2 separate regions of the Homo sapiens genome follow, and region 2 is linked to region 1. A link means that fine-mapping ties the variant in region 1 to the expression of a gene that starts in the linked region. Tissue or cell type: whole blood. Region 1 holds a variant in brackets; the other region holds the start of a gene. All regions are shown on one strand. Distances are between the middles of the regions.

The links. PIP is the estimated chance that this variant, and not a neighbour inherited with it, causes the effect.
Region 2: it holds the start of CCDC146, and the variant in region 1 is fine-mapped to the expression of CCDC146 in whole blood (INTERVAL, PIP above 0.99). The same link has a PIP of 0.9 or more in blood mononuclear cells.

What each region holds. Positions count from the first base shown.
Region 1 is chr7:77,189,136-77,197,242 of GRCh38, reverse strand. The region is part of intron 2 of CCDC146 (coiled-coil domain containing 146); the gene reads right to left. FGL2 (fibrinogen like 2) reads left to right here. Exons shown (of 2, transcript NM_006682.3): 2 at 258-3,874. The coding sequence ends at 964. Among named protein-coding and RNA genes, the nearest start is that of FGL2, 6.6 kb to the left of the region's middle. The variant A/G (reference allele first, on the strand shown) is at 3,929.
Region 2 is chr7:77,119,123-77,127,229 of GRCh38, reverse strand. It overlaps CCDC146 (coiled-coil domain containing 146), which reads right to left and starts at 4,615. Exons shown (of 19, transcript NM_020879.3): 1 at 4,498-4,615. LOC124901678 (a long non-coding RNA gene) reads left to right here. Exons shown (of 3, transcript XR_007060391.1): 3 at 458-724. It also overlaps the pseudogene FAM185BP. RefSeq lists a silencer at 4,830-4,929 and enhancers at 4,825-5,324, 5,325-5,826.

The DNA of each region.
Region 1 (8,107 bases):
TTTCTTATTGTCGTTTGCTGTTGATGCTGTCATTATTACTACCAACCAAGAGTATATTAGAGGTCCTTTCTGCTTTATAACATTAGGTTCTTCTTGTGAGGCCTTAAGCATTTGCTAAACAGGTTCAAGTAAGTTTAGTAAAGTTTCATTACTGCCATTGATTCAATTATCAAACTGCTTTTGTACATATAAAGAATTCTTCAGATGCATGGTTTCTATTAACAAGATCCAATGCCTTCCTTTTATTTCCCCTTCAGTTCAACATCTAATATATAAAGATTGCTCTGACTACTACGCAATAGGCAAAAGAAGCAGTGAGACCTACAGAGTTACACCTGATCCCAAAAATAGTAGCTTTGAAGTTTACTGTGACATGGAGACCATGGGGGGAGGCTGGACAGTGCTGCAGGCACGTCTCGATGGGAGCACCAACTTCACCAGAACATGGCAAGACTACAAAGCAGGCTTTGGAAACCTCAGAAGGGAATTTTGGCTGGGGAACGATAAAATTCATCTTCTGACCAAGAGTAAGGAAATGATTCTGAGAATAGATCTTGAAGACTTTAATGGTGTCGAACTATATGCCTTGTATGATCAGTTTTATGTGGCTAATGAGTTTCTCAAATATCGTTTACACGTTGGTAACTATAATGGCACAGCTGGAGATGCATTACGTTTCAACAAACATTACAACCACGATCTGAAGTTTTTCACCACTCCAGATAAAGACAATGATCGATATCCTTCTGGGAACTGTGGGCTGTACTACAGTTCAGGCTGGTGGTTTGATGCATGTCTTTCTGCAAACTTAAATGGCAAATATTATCACCAAAAATACAGAGGTGTCCGTAATGGGATTTTCTGGGGTACCTGGCCTGGTGTAAGTGAGGCACACCCTGGTGGCTACAAGTCCTCCTTCAAAGAGGCTAAGATGATGATCAGACCCAAGCACTTTAAGCCATAAATCACTCTGTTCATTCCTCCAGGTATTCGTTATCTAATAGGGCAATTAATTCCTTCAGCACTTTAGAATATGCCTTGTTTCATATTTTTCATAGCTAAAAAATGATGTCTGACGGCTAGGTTCTTATGCTACACAGCATTTGAAATAAAGCTGAAAAACAATGCATTTTAAAGGAGTCCTTTGTTGTTATGCTGTTATCCAATGAACACTTGCAAGCAATTAGCAATATTGAGAATTATACATTAGATTTACAATTCTTTTAATTTCTATTGAAACTTTTTCTATTGCTTGTATTACTTGCTGTATTTAAAAAATAATTGTTGGCTGGGTGTGGTAGCTCACGCCTGTAATCCCAGCACTTTGGAATGTCAAGGCAGGCAGATCACTTGAGGTCAGGAGTTTGAGACCAGCCTGGCCAAACATGTGAAACGCTGTCTCTATTAAAAATACAAAAATTAGCCGGGCATGGTGGTACATGCCTGTAATCCTAGCTACTTGGGAGGCTGAGGCAGGAGAATCGCTTGAACCTGAGAGGAAGAGGTTGCAGTGAGCCAAGACTGAGCCACTGCACTCCAGCATGGGTGACAGAGAAAACTCTGTCTCAAACAAAAAAATAATAAAATTTATTCAGTAGGCTGGATTCTACACAAAGTAATCTGTATTTGGGCCATGATTTAAGCACATCTGAAGGTATATCACTCTTTTCAGGCTATAATTATTTGGGTAATCTTCATTCTGAGACAAACTTAATCTATATCATTTACTTTGCAACAGAACAACCCTACAGCATTTTGGTTCCCAGACTAAGGGAACTAATATCTATATAATTAAACTTGTTCATTTATCATTCATGAAATATAAAATACTTGTCATTTAAACCGTTTAAAAATGTGGTAGCATAATGTCACCCCAAAAAGCATTCAGAAAGCAATGTAACTGTGAAGACCAGGGTTTAAAGGTAATTCATTTATAGTTTATAACTCCTTAGATGTTTGATGTTGAAAACTGCTTTAACATGAAAATTATCTTCCTCTGCTCTGTGTGAACAATAGCTTTTAATTTAAGATTGCTCACTACTGTACTAGACTACTGGTAGGTTTTTTTGGGGGGGGTGGGTAGGGATATGTGGGTAATGAAGCATTTACTTACAGGCTATCATACTCTGAGGCCAATTTTATCTCCAAAGCAATAATATCATTAAGTGATTCACTTCATAGAAGGCTAAGTTTCTCTAGGACAGATAGAAAACATGAATTTTGAAATATATAGAACAGTAGTTAAAATACTATATATTTCAACCCTGGCTGGTAGATTGCTTATTTTACTATCAGAAACTAAAAGATAGATTTTTACCCAAACAGAAGTATCTGTAATTTTTATAATTCATCAATTCTGGAATGCTATATATAATATTTAAAAGACTTTTTAAATGTGTTTAATTTCATCATCGTAAAAAGGGATCATCTCAGAGAGAACAGCAGTATTCTGCGTATTTTTAAAAATGCTCTAGAGTAACATTTGAAGTAATTCACTGTAGTGTATGCCAGTCCTAGAAATAATTTTTTTAATTTCTGGTGTCTGTTTCTAATACACTAACCAAGTTTTCAAAATATATTTACAAAGATGCATCTTTACCCATTATTTTAAAATGATTAAGGAGGATAGTTGCTTCAGGTAACAAGCTAATTTTTCAAATATTAGGCCCTTACAGAACTATTTAGTCAAAAAGTAAGATATTCCTTTAAAATATATAACCCAAAGCTTTCAGTTAAACATGATATATCACAAATACTATTAAAATGTTAAAGAGAAATGCAAATAGCATTAAATGATGACCAAAATGTAAAATATTGTAGATTTCAAAAGCTGTGTCTCTATTAGGTGGGATACCAAATGTAAATGATGTAACTGACGTTGTTTTTTACTTTTTACTTTTTAAAAAAGACTAAAAACGTTTTGATATTATACAATGTATTTGTTTCAGATAAGGTCATTGTCATTTAGTATATATAATTAATATATGTACAAGTTTAAGTAAATTCCTGTGAGTAAAAATGGACTTATCACAAAACATAGTTCTAAAGAAAGGTATATGCTCATATACACGGTGTCCATTAATTTAATGGGAACTAGGTATAACTTCAGGAGAATTTGGCAAATAATTCATTAATCCATGTAAATATTCAAAAGCTTGTTCTATCCACATTATTTCAAGGGATCACTTTATTTTTCATTATACTTTCACAGCACTTTTCTAGTAAATTCTGTAACACAGAAATTCCATTTTGGAATCATTTCATGTTACCAATAATTCTAGACTTTTATAACATTTAACATGTTGATGGAAATAGATTACATCTGCTAGAACCTTTTGCCTTAACTATTCACCAATATATGCTAATATTCATAAATATGGATTGACTGTTTACAAACATTAGAATCTTGTCTTGGTTCCATTTTGATGGCTAATATTTGTTATCTTAATTAAGACTATTTCTGAGGTCATGATTACTTGAAAATATTGACTAAAACTGGGTCCTTAGAAATTCCAGGTGGAGCTGATTTACCTATGACTGAGGGGAAAAAAAAATCAAATTTTACTGATAATAGTAATGCTCCAAATGAATTAATGACACATCTGTTCAATAAATAAAGAGCTTAAATATACAAAACATAAGAAATCTGGGCAACAAAACTTGTGGTCTTTACTTTTGAATAGCTACCCAAGAAAAGGTTTTAAAGGTAAAAGTTATGAGTAATGTCATCACAATAAGCTCTTGTTTAAAATTCTTTTCTTTTATGTATAATTAGGTTTATGTTTCATGTCTTTTTAAAACCTTATAAAAGATTTAATTATCACATCTATTCTTCAATGTGGAAATATTAAATATTGTTGGTTGTAAAATAATATTTATGTACTTACTTGTGTCTGAAAAGTTGTAAAATGCTTACCTCAGCTATACA[A/G]TATCTGTGACTCTGAAGACTTTAATGAGTACTATTTCATTAACAAGAAGTCAGAGGCAAATAGAGGAACACCATTATCTTACTTCCCTCTAGAATACTGTTGAAACATTTGAAATACAAAAGTTTCAGTTTCATTTTGTGGCATTCAACTTCCTCTCCTCTTTTTCCGTTATTAGTGTTGCTGCTCTGGTTAGCCCTCTTCATCTCCTTAGGACAACACAAACGCATCTGAATAGTCTGTACCTCTGGTTTCAGTCTATTCCAGTCCAACTTTCATCCCTACCAGGGGGATTGTTCAAAAGTACAATTCTGATCATGTTATTGTCCTGCTTAAAAAACTTTCAACAACGCCTTCTTTTCTTTTTTTTTATTATTTTATTTTATTTTTTTTAGAGACGGAGTCTCACTCTGTCGCCCAGGCTGGAGTGCAATGGCGAGATCTCGGCTCACTGCAACCTCTGCCTCCTGGGTTCACGCCATTCTCCTCTCTCAGCCTCCTGAGTAGCTGGGACTACAGACGCCTGCCACCTCGCCCAGCTAATTTTTGTATTTTTAGTAGAGACGGGGTTTCACCATGTTAGCCAGGATGGTCTCGATCTCCTGACCTCGTGATCCACCCGCCTAGGCCTCGCAAAGTGCTGGGATTACAGGCATTAGCCACCGTGCCCGGCCAACAATGCCTTATTTTCTACAAGATAAAATCTGGCAAATAAGTCCCTTCATGAAATGATTTTTACCACTACTTATACTTCTGCCATACTAAACGCCTTGTTGTACACAAACAAACTACGCTTTCTAATGTTTTCATTGCCTTTAGTATACTGTTTCCTTGGTCTAGATAGAATGCCATCCTCTTTCCTCACTGGGTTTTGTCTTATCACCCATGATTAACAGCAGGAACTCAGGAGCTGGCCTTCCTGGTTTGAATTTCAGCTCCACTATTTGCAAGCTGTATGATCCTGGGCAAGTCACTTAATGTTCTTTGGTTCCTTCAATTATAAAATAGGAATAGTAATAGAATCTGCCTGATAGAGTTATTGAGAGGATTAAATCACATATATAAAGCACCTAGAACATATATATTTAAAAATCATCATTCCCAGCTGGGTGTTGGTGGCACATGCCTGTAATCCCAGCACTTTGGGAGGCCGAGGTGGGCGGATCACGTGAGACCAGCCTGGCCAACATGGTGAAACCCCATCTCTACTAAAAATACAAAAATTAGCCAGGTGTGGTGGCTCACACCTGTAGTCCCAGCTACTCAGGAAGCTGAGGCAGGAGAATTGCTTGAACCTGGCAGACAGAGGTTGCAGTGAGCAGAGATGGCGCCACTGCACTCCAGCCTGGGTGACAGAGAAAAAAAATCATCATCATCCTAAGTAGTTATTATTATTTTTTATTTTTTGAGATGGAGTCTTGCTCTGTCGCCCAGGCTGGAGTGCAGTAGCACCATCTCGGCTCACTGCACGCTCCGCCTCCTGGGTTCACACCATTCTCCTGCCTCAGCCTCCCAAGTAGCTAGGACTACAGGTGCCCGCCACCACACCCAGCTAATTTGTTTTGTATTTTTAGTAGAGACTGGGTTTCACCGTGTTAGCCAGGATGGTCTCGATCTCCTGACCTCGTGATCCGCCCACCTTGGCCTCCCAAAGTGCTGGGATTACAGGCGTGAGCCACTGCGCCAGGCCCTAAATAGTTATCTCTTATAGGCAGAGTTCTCTGATGACAGTAGGTGGGGTCCTGGCACCTCTCCTAGATCTTATGCCATCCTACATATTCCTTATTATATATTATTCAATATTGTCTAAGTTCTATCCTGAAATCAATCTGTGTGAATAGGAGTAAAGGAAATTTGAGACATGAGTATTGTTATTCAAAGTGATTAATAATATGTTGCCACAGAGAAAGAGTTGTACTCTAAAGAGGCCACAGTTATGATTGGGAAAGTAGTGGGTAGGGTCAAATCTGCGGATATGAGAGACTGTGAACATAGGTGAGAAGCAATTACAGCCAGGGAGAATATGGCAAGACAGGATCAAATACAGTAAGTCCTCACTTAACGCTGTTGATAGGTTCTCAGAAACAGCGACGTTAAAACAACATACCATGTAACAAAACCAATTTTACCATAAGCTAATTGACATAAACAAGAATGAAGTTCCTATGGCATACAATATGCTGTTTTTGCTTAAAGTTGCTGTTTCCAAGAACCTATCCATGATGTTAAGTGAGGACTTACTGTATACTATAGGACTGGGAATGTAACAGTGGCAAACTTTTAGAAGGGGTCCTAGGAACATGCCTGTGGGGACATGTCACACAGAGGCATATTGCTGTACCTGCCCAATAGTGATTGTTCCACCCTACTGAATTCCTGAAGAAAAAAGCAGGAATAATTTTGAAATTAATTTTAATATAAAATCCATGAATCCTTTAATTTTTTAAAAAGTTACAGATTAAAATAAAGACTCCTTCACAAATCACCTTCAATTTCAATCCTGTCCCTCTCCCCAGAGGTAACAAGCCGAGGTGGCCAATTCCCAACTTTAATTTCATTCTGTGCATTGCCAGATCACAATGTCTACTAAGTCATAAGCTTGCCAGGTCTCCTTTGTTGATTGACTGGAAAGAGGTGGAAATGAGAGGAAATGGGTATACTTTGAAAACATGGAGTGTCCCGAATTCCCAAACATGAGTGGGCCCCCCCTTGCTTTTTGAAGTAGTCCCTCCCCTGACATTGATGAGGATGTCCTCTTGCTGGAGGGCACTGTTGCTTTCTTTCCTGGGGGAACACTCCAAATTCTTCCTTAGGCTCCTTCATCCCACTCATCAGCATCTCCAGATTCATCATCAGGGCATGCCCCAGTATCAGTTCTAAAGTCTAATGGAAAGAGAAGGCTTTGCACAACTTTGCTAACTTATATCAGCAGAAGGCTGGAGAAGACATGTAGAGAGAGACTGAGGTTGCCTGATTAAGGAAGAAACAATTTTAGATGTGACTGAATTTACTGGTATAGGTATATTTACCAGAAATTATAGATTCAACAGGCTATCTTGAGAAGACATGTTTGAGTCTAATAGTTTGCTTGCTTAGTTAATACAAACTTACATTCAATAGCAGCTCATGGTAACTAAAGTTGAGAAGCCAGAAATGTCTTCGAACTCAGACTTATGGAGATAGAAATGCTGGGGTAAAGTTAGCCTTAATTCATTCATCGAGTATTCACTGAGTGCACACCATGTGTCAGTCTTCTAGGAGGCTGGAGATTTATCAGTGACCAACACGGATAAAAATCTTACACTCATGCAGCGGGTAGTAGAGACAAATATATGGTAAATATTTATCAGAGGAGACAAATACATGATAAATACCATTAAAAATTAAGGAGAGTAAGGGAGTAGTAGAAAAGGGGGTGCTGTTTCATATAGAGCAGTCAGAAGAGGCCTGTCTGTGGAGGTGAAATTTGAACAGAGACCTAAAGATATGAGAGCTCAAACCAGGCAGATGTCTGGGATAAGTGTGTTTCAAACAAAGGGAACATTAGGTGCAAAAGCCCCAAGCCTGGAAGAGTGGATAGCATGTTTGAAGGTCAGCAAAGATGTCTGTGTGAAACAGCAGAGGGTCTGGGGTGGTGAGAAGATGAGATCAGAGACAGCTTGGGTGGTTGGGGATGAACAAGGGATAGGAGTGGTATACCGGATTACCTAGGCCTTTAAGCCATGGTAAGGACTGTGCCTTTTACACTGAGTAGATAAGAGCCGTAAGGGTTTTGAGCAGAGGAAAGACATGATCTCAACCAGTTTTAAAGGGGTCGCTTTTGTAGCTAAGTGGAAAACAGACTGTAGGGAACCAAGGATTGAAGCAAGGACATCAGTTTGATGTTTGCAATATTCTTGCTAAGTGATGAGGAAAGCATGATGAAAAGTTGCAGTGAGATACATCTATTTTGAAGGTAGAGGTGACAAAATTTGCTGATCAAAGGTCAGCCAGTGGTAGATAATAACAATTAGAGGCATTATAGAAAACCGCAAGATTTTAGTCTGAGCAACTGTGAAGGATGGAGCTGCCAGGAACAGAAATGCGGAAGTCTGCAGGGGAAGCCTGTCTGCAAAGTGTGTGAGGAGTGGAATGGAGTGGGGTGGGAGGCTGGAATCAGAAGTTTTGAACATTATAAGTTC
Region 2 (8,107 bases), 70 kb after region 1:
GGCCTCCCACAACATGGAGCAGGCAGGAGCTGGGGAATCCCGCCCCTGCTGAGTTGGCCTGCGGGAGCTCCCTGGGTGCAGCTGCCACTGCCCTCTCACCCACGGGACCCAGGCATCTCTGCAGCCTGTACCCTCTGGTGCCCCGGAAGGCCCCCCATCCCTGCAGGCTTGGGGTGTCTGCTCCCGCTGCCTGACCTCTCTCCTCTCCTGGAGCTGGCTCAGATCTTGGAGTGGGGTTGGGGTTGAGCCCTGGGGCCATGAATGGCAGCGGGAGGCAGACAGATTCTTGGGTGGAAGGGGGCAGGTCCCCAGTAAGGCTCTACCTTCAGTCCAGGGAGGGCCTGAAGGCTGGGGGCCAACTGCTGGTCCTGCATACCAGTTTGGGGACTCATGGGGCCTCTTCCAGCAGCCCATGGCTGCCCATGGACCAATCAGCATGCACTTCCTCCCCTCTGAGGTCCATAAAAGCCCTGGGCTCAGCCAGAGCAGGGCAGACGATGGCCAAAGGACGAAGAGGATAGACAGACTACACAAGGACCAGCTGCAGAAAGGAGCTACCGTCTCTGCCGAGAGCTTCAGAGACAACCTGCCAGCAGACAGGAGGCACCCTCTCCAGGGCCTCCTCTCCACTGAGAGCTGCAGACATTGGGACAACCAGTAGTAGAGAGGAGCTACCCTCTCCAGGGCCACCTCTCTAATGAGAACTGAATGCTGGACAGATGATCTTCCTACAGAGAGGAGCTACCCACTGTGGGTCTCCTCTGAGCTCTTGTAACACTTAATAAAGCTCATCTTCGTCTCGTTCACCCTTCACTTGTCTGCGTACCTCATTCTTCCTGGATGCAGGACAAGAATTCGGGCAAAGGTGCTGTGGCCACAGAGGTTTCTGGCCAGGAAATTGACAACCCAAAACTCCCTGACAATAACATGATGAAATGTAGCTTATTGAGGGAATGAAACACTTGAAAATCAATCACTGTAATACACATATCAATAAATCAGAAGAAAAACAATATGATCATCTTCATAGATACAGAAAAAGCATTTGACAAAATGCAACATTCACTTATGATAAAAAGTCTAAGCAAATTAGAAAGTAAACTTCCTTAACTTGCTAAAGGGCATCTTTAAAAATCTACTGCTAACTTCCTAATTGTTGTTGAAATTTCCCTCATAAATAGGAAATAAATCAAGGATTTTTGCTTTTGCCACTCCAACTCAATATTGTAGTGGCGGTCTTAGCCAGTGCAATAACACTAGGAAAGAAAAGCCATACAGATGAGAAAGGAAGAAATAAAACTGTCTATTTGCAGTTTCACATAGAGATTTCAAATAGAATTAGTACCTATATATATTCATTAAATACTTCTCAATGTTGATAGTTATTAGTTAAGATTGTTGAGTTTATTAATATTTCATAAGAATAATAGAAGTCATAAGATATATCTCTTTTTAAATAGTTTATAATTCAGAAAGTTAAATTCTTATGGCTTTTCTCTTAAGCTAAATTGCTGAATTCTTTGTTTTGGTTACCTTTTCTTCTGAAAACTCTCTTATGACCTCTGCTGTCCATTTATTGAACATAAATCATTAAATAAAATATTCGTTGACATTTATATCTAGATGGTAAGAAATCTTCTGCCCATCTGATTATTTGAGTCAGTTTTAGGAAACAATATATGCTAAGAAATGCTTTAAAATTGTTTTCTTATAAATGTAATATATTTTCACTATTGATAACACACAAAAAATTGCAGTAACCACTCATCATATCACTGCTTAAAGATAACAACTGTTATCAAGTGGTATATATCCCTCTGGAATTGTTTCTGTAAAGTATAATTTTATGTTAAATTTATTATTATTATTACACAATTGAGATCATACTATACGTGCAATTTTGTATATATTCTTTTCACTTTATATATGGACTATTTCCCATATCAAGATATGTTTAAATTGTTGCATAATATATCAGCTATATACTAATTTATGTAATACTGTCTTATTTGGGAGCATTTAACATTTTTTTATTGAGACAGAGTTTCACTCTTGCCGCCCAGGCTGGAGTGCAGTGGTGTGATCTCGGCTCACTGCAACCTCTACCTCCTGTGTTTAAGTGATTCTCCTGTCTCAGCCTCCTGAGTAGCTGGGATTACAGGTGTCCATCACTACGCCAAGCTAATTTTTTTAATTTTTAGTAGAGATGGAGTTTCACCATGTTGGCCAGGCTGGTCCTGAACTCCTGACCTCAGGTGATCCACCTGTCTCAGCCTCCCAAAGTGCTGAAATTACAGGCATGAGCCACTGCACCTGGCCAGGGAGCATTTAAATTGATGCAATTATTTTCTCTTACAAGTAACCCTATAAAACATAATTCCTTGAGCATCCCTAATTTTATGCTTACATCCCCAAAAGCACAATTTCTGAGTCATAGAAAAAGCTTTTCATTCTTATTGCTGAATTGAACTCTAAAAATTTTGTGCTAACTTAACACTCCTACCAGAAGTATATGTTCATGACCACAGAAATAGCTTTTTTAAACTAAGATGTGAAAATATCTTAGAAACAAACTCTAAATAAGGAGAAAAAAGTTGTATATAATTTTCTACTTATGAGGTGAATAATTTCATTTTTTCTTCAAAGGTGTCAGGAAAATGGACGTTTTGGTAGAGTGATAAAAGGGCCAGACCTTCTAATTGCTTAATCTTAATGTTTCTGAATCTGTTTCCCCATCTATAGTGTGAGGAGAATAATTTCCCTCCTAATTAGTGAGGATACAGTGAGATGACGCATGTGAACATGGTTTGACAATTATAATGTCATATGGATGGAAGATACAACTTTTATTAATCATTGTTGATATGTGGACAGATTTGATACTCATTATACTGTTTTTAAGTGTCTATAACTTTAACTATTTTATACCAATCTTAATATTAATAATTTTCTCCATTTTCAACCTTGTATGATCAGCAAAGTAAATTTTCAGTCAATTCTATTTGGTTTTTGTTTGAAAAAGTAAAATAATGATTATGCAACATAGAAAATTATAGTTCAGTTGCCAATTCCATTAACTTAGTTTGTCTCAGAAACGGAAAAATTACCATAGACACAGAATTAACTATTAAGAATTAATATTTAATCTAAAAATGTCTAGTGTTTCTACAGAAAATTTGAGTACATTCTCAACTTCCTTAAACCAGTGCCTTTTTCAAATTTCTTTTCAAAGTTACACCTGTCAATTTTCATAAAAAATAGTTTGAAGATTATTCTGAATAATTATAACCAATGAAACACAAAGACAAGAAAAGAACTATTGCAGTGGGCCCTTGCTGAACCTGAGCTAGCACCTATAATGAGTGAGTCTTCACCGAAAGAAGAATAAGGAGGGAGCAAGGACTAGAAGGACAGAAAAGAGGCAATGATAACTTAAGAGAACACTGAATTTTTAAAAATTTTAAAAAGGTAGTGGCTAGCAGAGAACCTGAGACTTGTACCCATGAGAACTTTAGCCCAGTCTATCTATCACGATAGCCCCAAGAATTCTGGTCATTGTACTTGGGTAAGGGCTTCAATTTTTTAAGGCACTTGCATTTTATGAAATGTTAGTGTTTGCAGGTGTCTTGGCTAAATAATTTAGGGAATACATTTTAGGAGGAAGTAGGGGCACAGAGGGGGAGAGAGAAACCAGGCAGGAAAGAAGAAAAAAAGAAGAAAATAAATCTTTCTGTTCCCATTATTTTACTGCCCATAGAATTATAAAAGGTAAACACACACACACACACACACACACACACACACACACACACACACACACACACACCTTATAGGGTCATTTAGAACCATCTTTCTTCATTTTAAAACTAAAGAAACAGGTCTAGGTGACACAGATGAAGCAGTGGCAGAGCCAGGAAAATAATCTGACCCTTGTCCCTGCTCTTTCCACCGCACCATGGTGACTCTCTTTTTTGTGTCTTTTTTTTTTTCACTCTAAAACTGATGATCATTTGTAGTCAAAGAGATCAATGCTATTCTCAAAACAAGTTCTGATCTCTCATAATTTTCTTGGTAACTCAGAATCAATGTTAAGTACGTTGAAATAAAAATACAGTACTTTACACGGTAATTTGGTAGACTGTGCACCACGGTCCCATCCATTTTCTTACTTGATCCTCACAAAAACCCTTTGAGGCAAGGCAAGGAAGGTATTATCATCTACATTTTTAAAGTGAGCAAATTAAAACCCAAAGTAAGGTCACTTAGGGTCAGGACGGAGCAAGTACTCTATTCCTATATTTGGAATATAGGAGGGAATACACTTCCAAAGAGGCAATTCCCTCAAAAAGCACCAATCTTGCTCTTTACTCTCTTACCAAGGCATTCTCCATGCCCTGGAGATGCCCGCACTAGGTTAGTGAAGCTTGGATCTTGACATCCACATAGGTTACTCCTAGTTTGCACCTAGTTGTCAACTTAAAAAGCGCAGTTTCTTACCCCTTCCCTTGGTCCTGATCCTTATTTAGGCTCCTATTTTTCTCTTTGGGATTTGGCCTCCTGGGTCTCACTCCAAAGCTCCACCCTCTCCAAACAAGAAGTCGCGTCCTTGGTATCCAAGGTGACCATGCAGCTTTACCCTCGTTGCCCCCTTCCGTGCTTCCCATTGGCCAGTGGCCTCCCATGTACCGCCCCTCCAATAGCCAATGGTCTTGAAACAAAGGGCGCCCGCCTTTCCAGCGATTCTAACACCTGCCCTCTTACCCGTGCTCCCCTGCGCATTGCCTCCTGGGATATGTGGTTTCTAAGAGGCGGAGCTCTGCGACTTTCCACCGCTTTAGAACTACGTATCCCGTCGGCCTTAGCGAAAGGGGGTGGACTTAGGCAAGGGGTCCAGGTCAGAGTTCAGAGCTTTCAAATCCCAACTTGCCCCTGGGGATTACGCAGCTGATGTTTACATCGCCTAGTCAAGCCAACCGGCTCGCTCTTGTTTCAGCAAACCCTGACTTACGTCTCCTATTTGACTTGAGGCGGCACAGTGGCCAAGTCGATTGGCCGTGGCAAGTGACCCTCCCTGTGGCTGAAGTGTTCTGAGGACTGGCGAGAGAGGCGCGCCATGCTTGCCCCCTGTTCAGGTTGGGAGCTTGGCTGCTTCCGTCTCTGTCTCCGTCAGGTCCGACTGTGGGCTGGCGCTGGGCGCTGGTCTTGCTGGGCTTGCCAAGCCAGGCCGTACAGCTCAGGTAGGGGCGAGCGCTGGCCCGGATCGGAGACTGAGGTCCCTCCGCCTGGCCCGGCGCGCCGAACTCTGAAGGAGTGGACACTGCAGGTGAGCCCGTTCGGTCGGCTGCGGGCGCGGCTCCCGTGCCACCTGGCCGTGAGGCCCCTGGACCCCCTCACCTACCCGGATGGCGACCGCGTGCTGGTCGCGGTGTGCGGCGTGGAGGGCGGCGTGCGGGGCCTGGACGGCCTGCAGGTGAAGTACGACGAGGATCTGGAGGAGATGGCCATTGTGTCTGATACTATCCACCCCCAGGCGTCCGTGGAGGTGAACGCGCCCCTGAAGTTTGGCAAGTGAAGTGAAGTGAAAACGGGTTTGGGTCCCAGGGAACGCACAGTGAACTTAATAAATTTGGTCGACGTGCACTTTTAATTGGTCCTGGCTTTCTAAACCTAATTTACAGTTGGCCCCTTCGGAAATGCAACTTTTCCTCTGTTCTATTCTTGAGTATCCGAGTAGTATTTAAAAAATTAGGTTCCCAATTATAGAAATTTTATACATCGAATGGAAACACGATTTGGTATAATCCAGGTCAAATTCTATTTCTGGAGCCGCTTGTGTTCTTCTTTATCCCGTTGTCATTAGCAAACTGGCTTATTTTTCAAGGTTGAAGTTTCTTGACAATTCATTCAATGGTATGGCAGTCCATCTACATTTCCCCTTGCTCACAGCCTGGGGGTGTGTCCCAAAACAGCCCTGTCAATAGGATGTTCCAGGTACCACCTGGTTTGAGTATTTGGTTTTAGACGGGCGCCCAGCTTCTTACTGTTATGTTTCCATTCTTTTTGGCCTAAGTTTTCCATGAGTAGCAAGCTTTGAAGAAAAACACATGGTAAGCCTGCCTAGGAAGCTTCAATAATAATGCCTGCAAGATACCTTTCTTAGGTTTTCCTAAATGGCAAGCCACTGTGTACACACACTTTTCTAGGAAGGGCTCCCCAGACTGTCATTCTTCCTGGGACTGAAGGAAGATATTGATGATGATGATGATGGTAATAATAATAGCATTTAGCATTTTTAAGATCATCTTTTATAATGCTTACAGTTGCCCAAATAGTAGATGCCGTAGTCCTCCCTTATCCACCGTTTGGCTGTCTGAGTTTGTTACCTGCCTCAACTGTTGTAGGAAAATATTAAGATATTTTGACAGATCACAGTAATATAACTTTTATTACAGTATATTGTTATAATTGCTGTATTTATTATTATTGTTGTTCATCTCTTACTATGCCTAGTTTATAAATTAAACTTGATCATTGATATGTATACAGGAAAAAACATAGAATATATAGGATTTGGTACTATTTGTGGTTTCAGGAATCAAGTCGGGGGGGCGGGTCTTGCCTACTTTAAGAGAAATCATCAATATTTATGTTAATTCCAAATTAAATATCAGCGTTTTTAATTTTTAAAATTTGTATACAGCGATGCCTGCAGTTACATCTTAAATAGACAGCCAAGGATGGCATTTGTAATTCCTTATTTTCCAAACTTGCTTCATGTACCACTGCCATTTGTCCACAATCTTGTGGGGTTTTTTGTTTGTTTGTTTTGGTTTTTTTTGAGACTGCATCTCACTCACTCTGCCATGCAGGCTGGAGTACAGGTGCACAATCATGGCCCACTGCAGTCTTGACTTCACGGTTTTAAGCAATCTTCTCGCCTCCGCCTCCTGAGTAGCTGGGACTACAGGTGCATGCTACCATGCCTGGCTAATGTTTTTGTTTTTTTGTAGAAAGGGAGTTTTGCCACATTGTCCAGGCTGGTCTTGAACTCCTGGGCTTCAAGCAATCCTCCTTCCTCGGCCTCCCAAAGTGCTGGTATTACAGGCATGAGCCACGGCTCATGGCCTAATCTTGTAGTTTTAATAGTATATATTAGGTTTTTCAAAGTTGTTCCCATTTTTAAAAAATTACTTCAAATACCTTGTGATATAGTTGCATGGTAATATTTTCATTTTTTAAGTATGAAAGGTTAGACATAGGATTTGAAAACCTAAGTCATGATCATATATACTGGGGAAGAGGCTTCTACAGTCTTTCACAGGAGTACTTAACAGAATCGTAGTCTCCTTTACTTCCCATCTATGTTAGTTCTCTTTAGGTGATTTAGGCCAGTAGAAATAACTGCTCTGTTTCTAAAAACGGGCAGAAAGGCTATTGTATTTGGTCCCGTTGCCGTGGTAGAAGACCCCTTACCTTTACAGTATGCACTTTCCAGGATTCAGCAATATTATGGACATAACTGAGGAGTTGGGTTTCTAGGTTAAAATGCTTTGGAGCTTATAAACTGCAGTACTAACTTGCTTTTTTCTTTTTTTACTTCTAGGTTTAGATATCAAGTCATCAGGGTCTGGCTGTGTAGAAGTTCAAAGTATTGAGGGTGATAATTGCAAAATTGAAACAGAGCATGGGACTAGCATCTTGCAGTCTGTTAAGGTATAGCATTTTTCTAATTTTATTTCACTATTATTTTTTTAAAAGCCTTAAGCTATGAATCGTACTATCAAACTCAAGAGATTCTTCTGTTTTTCAGAACATTGTCATTTATTCATCTCTCAGAAAGTCCTTGGCAAACATTTTGCCTTGAAATCAGTTCTAGTAAAGTACAGAGGTTATAGCAGTTTTGAGGTTTTGCCTCAAATTTCTTTTTGATTTAATTTCAAAGTGTACAGTGAAACTAATAGTATTTTCCTAGTATTCTGAAATCTTACTAAAGAAATTTTAGTTTCCACAAATGATTTTCTTCCATTTTATTAAAGAGTAAGGAAGAATCTTTGTGCACTATAAATGTGCTTAAATATTAGATGACTTTAATCACATTTTTAATGTA